Linked DNA regions of Homo sapiens. The protein of the gene in region 1 interacts with the protein of each later gene in a pairwise test. Each region holds a gene or a part of one and is shown in the gene's direction. Other genes may lie near its edges. The genes, in order: PGLYRP3 and HSD17B14.

Region 1 (3,818 bases):
CACAAATATCACCCGATTTGGCCCTCCCAGCTACTCTGAGAAATGGGTTCCTACCCATATTCCTACCCTTATTTCACAGGCGGGAAAGCCATGGTTTGGGGGAATTAAAAGCTCTGCTCAGAGAGAGGAAGCACGTACCCAGAGCTGTGTGAGAGCACCTGCCAGTGTAGCCCTTGCTCCTCCCCACCTCACAGGGACTCGCACCTGGGAAGCAGTGTCCCACTTGTTACCCTGAAAGACCACTCTGACAGCAAGTCCGGGGACCCCACCGGGGAGAGTGGGCTTTGGGAATGGCGGGGAGGAGAGACCCGCAAGAAACAAGGGAGGGCATGAAGGAGCTGTGCACTGTGCATTGAGTTTCTGCTCTGGGGATCATCAGTGGAAGCCCAGAACCTTTTCTCCCTTAGCCTCAAGAATGAGGAGACACATGTAGAAGGAGAGGGAAAGAGAGAGTGGGAATGGGGCTGTCCCGCATGGAACTCTAAAGACAAACATAAATAATTTCTGAATTATCCATTTTGGAAAGGAAAATCTAAGTCTTATTTATTTATTTATTTATTTTTAAACACAAATAAATAAGAGCAGCTGCAGGCCCTGGTTTTGGCCCCCAGCACCCCTGGGATGGCTGGGTCTTCCCTGTCTGCCCATGGGGCATGTCATGTCAACCACGACTCACCTGCTGCCCCTGCCACCAGCACCTCCACCATCCTGCTGTTGTCGCTGCTGTGTTTTCTGGTTTGGTCACTGTATTCCTAAGTTATTTCAGCCTCTGCATCTCTAAGTCAGGTTTCTACAGTGACAACTTGACAATCTCCAGTTTTTGCAATGCAGCTGACAGTAGCTGTAAGGGACTGTTCACACCGTACTAACCACAGGCTGCTGCAGGAGTGACCAAGGAACCTGTGAAAGTACTGGCAGCAAAGCCAGGGAAGGGGTGGACACACCAGGCTCCACACCCATTCCTCATGTCGACATCGGTGTAGGGTGGAAAGTCGGCCTGACTCAGTTCAGTGTCTTTCCTTGACCTAAGGGAGGTGTTCTTTCTGTGTTCAGTTTGCTGCGGAAACTCATGTTCTATTAAAAGATGAATACGGCAAAGTTGTGAAAACATCAATTCTGAAGACTGATTGGAAAGTGGAGGAGAGAAATTATAAAGAGGCAGGAATAAAAGAAGTAGAATAAAAAATTGATTTAAAAAGTAAATGTGAAAAAGGAACATTCTAAACAAATTTCTATGATAAAGAAGAGCTTAAGGAAATTCCTAAAGAGAATCTGAAGAAAAACATCAATACAAAAGGAACTATTGAATCTGGCATAATTATTTTAGAGAATGTTCAAGTGTTTGGTCCTATAATTTAAAAACATGATGTAGTAATTTTTAAGCTCTTGAAAAGCATTGAACTAATGTCCTCAGGTCCTTGAGTGTCATGCAGTCAAATTCCACTTTGAACCAAATGAGTATTTTTGAAGTGAGGTTCTGGAAAACACATGCAAGCTAAATCCCAACAAAAATTAAAATATATTCCCATGTCTCTTGGAGGTCTAAAACTGGTTATTCTGCACCTCCTATTGTTTTGTTATTGGAACATAGTACTTACTTATGAGCCTCCAGAACCCCTTTTCCTTTTGAGGATCAGTGAGAGGTTTTCATTTATGGAGATTTGCAGTAAAATCATTATTTCCTTCTTGTCAGCTTCCTGGTTGGGGATGATGGCAGGGTGTATGAAGGTGTTGGCTGGAACATCCAAGGCTTGCACACCCAGGGCTACAACAACATTTCCCTGGGCATCGCCTTCTTTGGCAATAAGATAGGTAAGGGTCACTCCCTGCGGACCCTGTGCTGGAGAGTTGTGTACACTCTCTTCCTCCACTCCCAAGGGTCAACACTCATCTTTTTACCCTACATCATACTTACCTTCTCTGATGATCACCCTTCTCTTGAAATTCTTTTCTCCTTTGGATCCTGTGACATGCATACTTTTTGTCCTCTGCCTCTCTTTACTGGTCTGTACTCCTGTGATATTGCTGAAGCTTGCATGGGCGTTGCTTGAGCTCACGGTTATTGCTGTCACTTCTAAAGTCTGAGGTTGTCTGACATAGATGCTGTGACTGCCAGAGGCAGAGAAGCATGGCTCATCTCTTATTCCAGTTCCACTGGTAGAAAGTGACCAGAAGGCAGCAGGCAAGGAAATCTGGAGGTATAATTTGCAGGCTTCTAGCCCCTAGAAAAATAGAGAAAAGCACAGAACAGGGATGGAGCTGAGAAATAATACATATGGAACCAGCACCTGCCAGCATCCTCATTTGACAGCTGGGGCTAGGTAACAGCATTTCTCTCAGAGGTTTTCTGTGAGAGTTATGAGTTAACAGATATAAAAAGCCTACTGCACACCTGATCAGGGGAGCTATGAGTAAATTCTGGTTGCCTTTTCTCCTGTGCTAGTGCACACCTGACTTGGTCAGGTGGGCCTCCCTTTGCATGTATCCTTCACTGCCTTCCAGCTCTTCTGCCTAGAGATGGAGTGGATAAAGTCTTAGCTTGGCTCTTGGAAGAAGTTTTCAACCTTGGCTGCTAAGAGATCTAGGTAGCTTCTCGCCTCTTAGGCACTCTGTTCTGGCAACTGGACCAGTTTCCTCTCTTCCAATCCAGTTATTCAGGCTCAAGTGGTCATATCATCCTTTCTGCAGGTGTCTGGTCTAGGTGGAGTTTCTTACTGACATTTTTGTGCTCCCTGTCCTCCTCTTTAAGGCAGCAGTCCCAGCCCTGCTGCCTTATCAGCTGCAGAGGGTCTGATCTCCTATGCCATCCAGAAGGGTCACCTGTCGCCCAGGTATATTCAGCCACTTCTTCTGAAAGAAGAGACCTGCCTGGACCCTCAACATCCAGTGATGCCCAGGAAGGGTAAGACCCTCCATGTCACCTCACCCTCCTCCTCGTCACCACCTAGCCATGTTTGGAGTCATGTTTGGGAGTGCTTTTTCCTGTTAGACCCCATGGGATTCTGGGACTAAGAACATCTCATGCCTACTTTGAGATCTGGAAAATTCTGAGAGGGCATCTTCCTGGCCTCCTCTCCATCCCATCAGAATGAGATAGCCATAGACTTCTTCTTAAAACAAATACATATGTACACAGATTTTCAGTCAGTCAACAAATATTTACTGCATAGCAGGCACTGTTCTAAGTACTGAGCATACAGCTGTGAACAAAACAGATGAAACTCTTCACCTTCAGGAAGCTTGCACTTCAGTGAGAAGAGACAGAAAATGAACAAAATAACAAAGAAATGTATATGATGTTAGACGGCATAAAAGCTATGGAGAAAAATAGAGTGGGAATGGAGTGGGATTAACATGTATACATAGTTGTGTCTATTATGTGGGGACACGAAGGACATACATAAGCTTACATACCTTTCTAAATGCAAAAACCAGCCATGGCCACAGCACAGCCACAGCTCGGAGAAAAGCTTGTGCTCACAGATGATGCTGACATCAGAGTGCATATAACAAAAAGCTGAGTAATAAAAATAATGCACTATTTTGAAGTGAATAAGCAGCAACCTAAAACCAGTCAAATTAATAAGCACTCCTGCTAGTGGACCTTTTCTTGGGATCAATGATATTTTTAGAATTAGCTTTTTAAAACTGTAAATCTCAAATAAAATGTTTCTTGCTTTTGGACAGGCACTATCTTCAATAATGATAATTTCTTAATATTTGTACAGTTCTCTCTAGATTTCAAGTTGTTTCCAAATATGTGTGATCAGTTCGGAGAGTCCACTGACTTCCGCGTAGTAGCCCTGTTACATAAGCGC
Region 2 (3,818 bases), on another chromosome or scaffold:
CTGTCTGGCTCGCTCACCTAAGGGAGAGTCAATTCAGGTTAAAACAAGGTTAGGGTATCACAGCTTGAGCCCAGGAGGCGGAGGTTGCAGTGAGCTGAGATCGTGCAACTGCACTCCAGCCTAGGTGACAGAGTGAGACCTTGTCTCAAAAAAAAAATAATTCATTAATTAATTTTTAAAAAGAGCATGGAGTCCAGGCATGGTGGCTTACGCCTGTAATCCCAGCACTTTGGGAGGCCGAGGCAGGCGGATCACCTGAGGTCGGGAGTTTGAGACCAGCCTGACCAACATGGAGAAACCCCATCTCTATTAAAAATACAAAATTAGCCGGGTGTGGTGGCACATGCCTATAATCCCAGCTACTCAGGAGGCTGAGGCAGGAGAATCACTTGAACCTGGGAGGCAGAGGTTGCAGTGAGCTGAGATCGTGCCATTGCACTCCAGCCTGGGCAATAAGAGCGGAAACTCCGTCTCACAAAAAAAAAAAAAAAAAAAAAAGCCAGGCCTGGTAGCTCATGCCTGTAATCCTGGCACTTTGGGAGGCCAAGGCGGACAGATCACTTGAGGTCAGGAGTCCAACATGGTGAAACCCCATCTCTACTAAAAATACAAAAATTAGCTGTGCGTGGTGGCAGGTGCCTGTAATCCCAGCTACTCAAGAGGCTGAGGCGGTAGAATTGCTTGAACCTGGGAGGTGGAGGTTGCAGTGAGCTGAGATTGTGCCACTACACTCCAGCCTGGGTGACAGAGTGAAACTCTTTCTCAGAAAAAAAAAAAAAATTAGCTGAGTATGGTGGTGCTCCTGTAATCCCAGCTACACGGGAGGCTGAGGTGAGAGGATCACTTCAACCTGGGAGCTGGAGGCTGCAGTGAGCCGTGATTGTGCCACTGCACTCCAGCCTGGGCAACAGAGCGAGTCCTTGTCTTAAACAAGAATTGGGGGAGAGCTGGGGAGGGAATGAGAAAGAAAACAAACTTTTTTATCTGAGAAAGGAGAGCCCCTTTAGATGATCAGGATCAGGCCCAGAGGGGCTTTTTAACAACTTTTTTAAAAATTAATTAATTTATTTTTTGAGACAGAGTCTTACTCTGTCACCCAGGCTGGAGTACAGTGGCACAATCTCGGCTCACTGCAACCTCTGCCTCCCAGGTTTAAGCAATTCTCTGCCTCAGCCTCCCTAGTGGCTGGGATTATAGGCACTCACCACCACGCCTGGCTAATTTTTTTGTATTTTTAGTAGAGACGAGGTTTCACCATGTTGGCCAGGCTGGTCTTGAACTCCTGACCCCGTGATCCACCCACCTCAGCCTCCCAAAGTGCTGGGATTACAGGCATGAGCCACTGTGCCTGGCCTTTTTATTTTTTAATAGAGGTGGGGTTTCACTATGTTGTCCAGGCTGGTCTCAAACTCTTGGGCTCAAGTGATTCTCCTGCCTCAGCCTTTCAAACTCCTGGGATTACAGGTGTGAGCCACCGCACCTGGCTCAGAGGGACTTTATAAAAATGTATTTTAATTACTTTTTGAGACAGGGACTCACTCTGTTGCCCAGGCTGGAGTACCATCATAGCTCACAGCAGCCTCGAACCCCTGGGCTCAAGTGATCCTCTTGTATCAGCCTCCTGAGCAGCTGGGACCACAGGGGTGCACCACTATGACTGACTAATTTTTAACTTTTTTGTAGAGACAGGGTCTTTCTATGCTGCTCAGGCTGGTCTCGAACTCCTTGCCTCAAGCTGGGATTACAGGCATGAGCTACTGCACCCATCCAATAATTACCTTTTGAGGCTACTTGGTTTCTGGACTCTAGACGACCTGATACCAAGTAGCTCTAGAGTGTCACACACTCTATAGTTCAAACATGTATAGCCAATCACTAATCAATGTGATGTCTGTAAACCAATGACAATTCCTGATGAACAACTTTTGTAATCACCGCCTCTCTTGATTCGTCCTTTTTTCTTTAAAAAGTTGAGCCTTTGGCCGGGCGCGGCACCTCATGCCTGTAATCCCAGCACTTTGGGAGGCCGAGGCCGGCGGATCACGAGGTCAGGAGATCGAGACCATCTTGGCTAACGCGGTGAAACCCCGTCTCTACTAAAAATACAAAAAATTAGCTGGGCGCGGTGGCGGGCTCCTGTAGTCCCAGCTACTTGGGAGGCTGAGGCAGGAGAATGGCGTGAACCCGGGAGGCGGAGGTTGCAGTGAGCCGAGATTGCATCACTGCACTCCAGCCTGGGCAATAGAGCGAGACTCCGTCTCAAAAAAAAAAAAAGAAAAAAAAAAGGAAGGAGAAGGGTTGGTCACGGTGGCTCACACCTGTAATCCCAGCACTTTGGGATGCCAAGGCGGGTGGATCACTCATCAGGAGTTCAAGACCAGCCTGTCCAATATGGTGAGACCCCGTCTCTACTAAAAATACACAAAAAATTAGCTGGGCATGGTGGTGAGCACCTGTAATCCCAATTCCTCGTGAGGCTGAGGCAGGAGAATTGCTGGAACCTGGGAGATGGAGGTTGCAGTGAGCTGAGATTGCACCACTGCACTCCAGCCTGGGCAACAGAGCAAGACTCTATCTAAAAAAAAACGAAGGAGAAGAACACACATCAAAGCCTTTCCCTCACCCTTGCTTATGCAACAGCTGCACACAAACATCCACTCTCCATAACATCTTTATTCTCCGCATAGCACTTTTTAATTAATTAACTCAACAAATAGTTATATAGCACCAGCAACATGCGGAGCCCTGCGCATACAGCTATGAACACACAACAGAAGAAAATCCCTGTCCTTGCCAGGCACGGTGGCTCATGTCTTTGTAATCCCAGCACTTTGGGAGGCTAAGGCGGGCAGATCATGAGGTCAGGAGTTCGAGACCAGCCTGGCCAACATGGTGAAACTCCGTCTCTACTAAAAATACAAAAATTAGCCAGGCGTGGTGGTGGGCGCCTGTAATCCCAGCTTCTTATGAGGCTGAGGCAGGACAATCTCATGAACCCAGGAGGCAGAGGTTGAGGTGAGCTGAGATCACACCACTGCACTCCAGCCTGGGCGACAGAGCGAGACTCCATCTCAAAAAAAAAAAAAAAGTGGGGTTTTAGGTTTGTTCTCCCCACCTCCAGCAACTGAGCAACTGACCGGACAGAGCTGCCATTCACTGTGGCAGGAAAGCCTGGCGGGGGCGCTGTTGAACATGAACTGCCTGGTGGACGTCCTGGTGGGAATGGGCATTGGGCATGAGATCGTGGAGGTGGGGCTCTGGAGATACCAGCTTGCAGCTGACCAGTTTGAGGCTGGAGGAACTCAGGGGAGCAAGAGTAGGCAAAGAGGGGAGAGGCCTGGGGGCGGGCCCAGTGTCCAGGGAGCTTCAGGTGCTGACTCTGAGGTCGCATCCAAGATCCAGGTGAAATGTTCCCGGGAGGTTGGGCAATCCCCTGCTTAACCAGTGAACCCTGGCTCCTGTTCCAAATTTGTGTTGACTTTCTAGGATTAACCCAACACTAAAAACACCTCCACACATAAAACACACCTACACCTCAGCCCATGAAGAGTTAATATATGTGTGTGTGTGTGTGTGTGTGTGTGTGTGTGTATATATATATATATTTTCTTCTTTTCTTTTACTTTTTTTTTTTTTTTTTTTGAGACAATCTTGCTCCATCACCCAGGCTGGAGTGCAGTGGCAGGATCTCGGCTCACCACAACCTTGACTACCTGGGCTCAATAAATTCTCCTGCCTCAGCCTCCCGAGGACCTGAGACTACAGGTGCCCACCACTACGCCCAGCTGATTTTTGTATTTTTTGTAGAGTTGGGGGTC

The links.
Region 2: the proteins of PGLYRP3 (region 1) and HSD17B14 interact in binary tests that used the Homo sapiens proteins (3 or more experiments, as listed by UniProt).

What each region holds. Positions count from the first base shown.
Region 1 is NC_000001.11:153,302,941-153,306,758, reverse strand, and holds part of PGLYRP3 (peptidoglycan recognition protein 3 precursor), read left to right. Parts: intron 1-1,693; coding exon 1,694-1,812; intron 1,813-2,749; coding exon 2,750-2,902; intron 2,903-3,818. UniProt on the Homo sapiens protein: Pattern receptor that binds to murein peptidoglycans (PGN) of Gram-positive bacteria. Has bactericidal activity towards Gram-positive bacteria. May kill Gram-positive bacteria by interfering with peptidoglycan biosynthesis.
Region 2 is NC_000019.10:48,826,316-48,830,133, reverse strand, and holds part of HSD17B14 (L-fucose dehydrogenase), read left to right. Parts: intron 1-3,818. UniProt on the Homo sapiens protein: Catalyzes the NAD(+)-dependent oxidation of L-fucose, yielding L-fucono-1,5-lactone, which rapidly converts spontaneously to L-fucone-1,4-lactone. Can also act on D-arabinose and L-galactose, with lower catalytic efficiency. Does not use NADPH.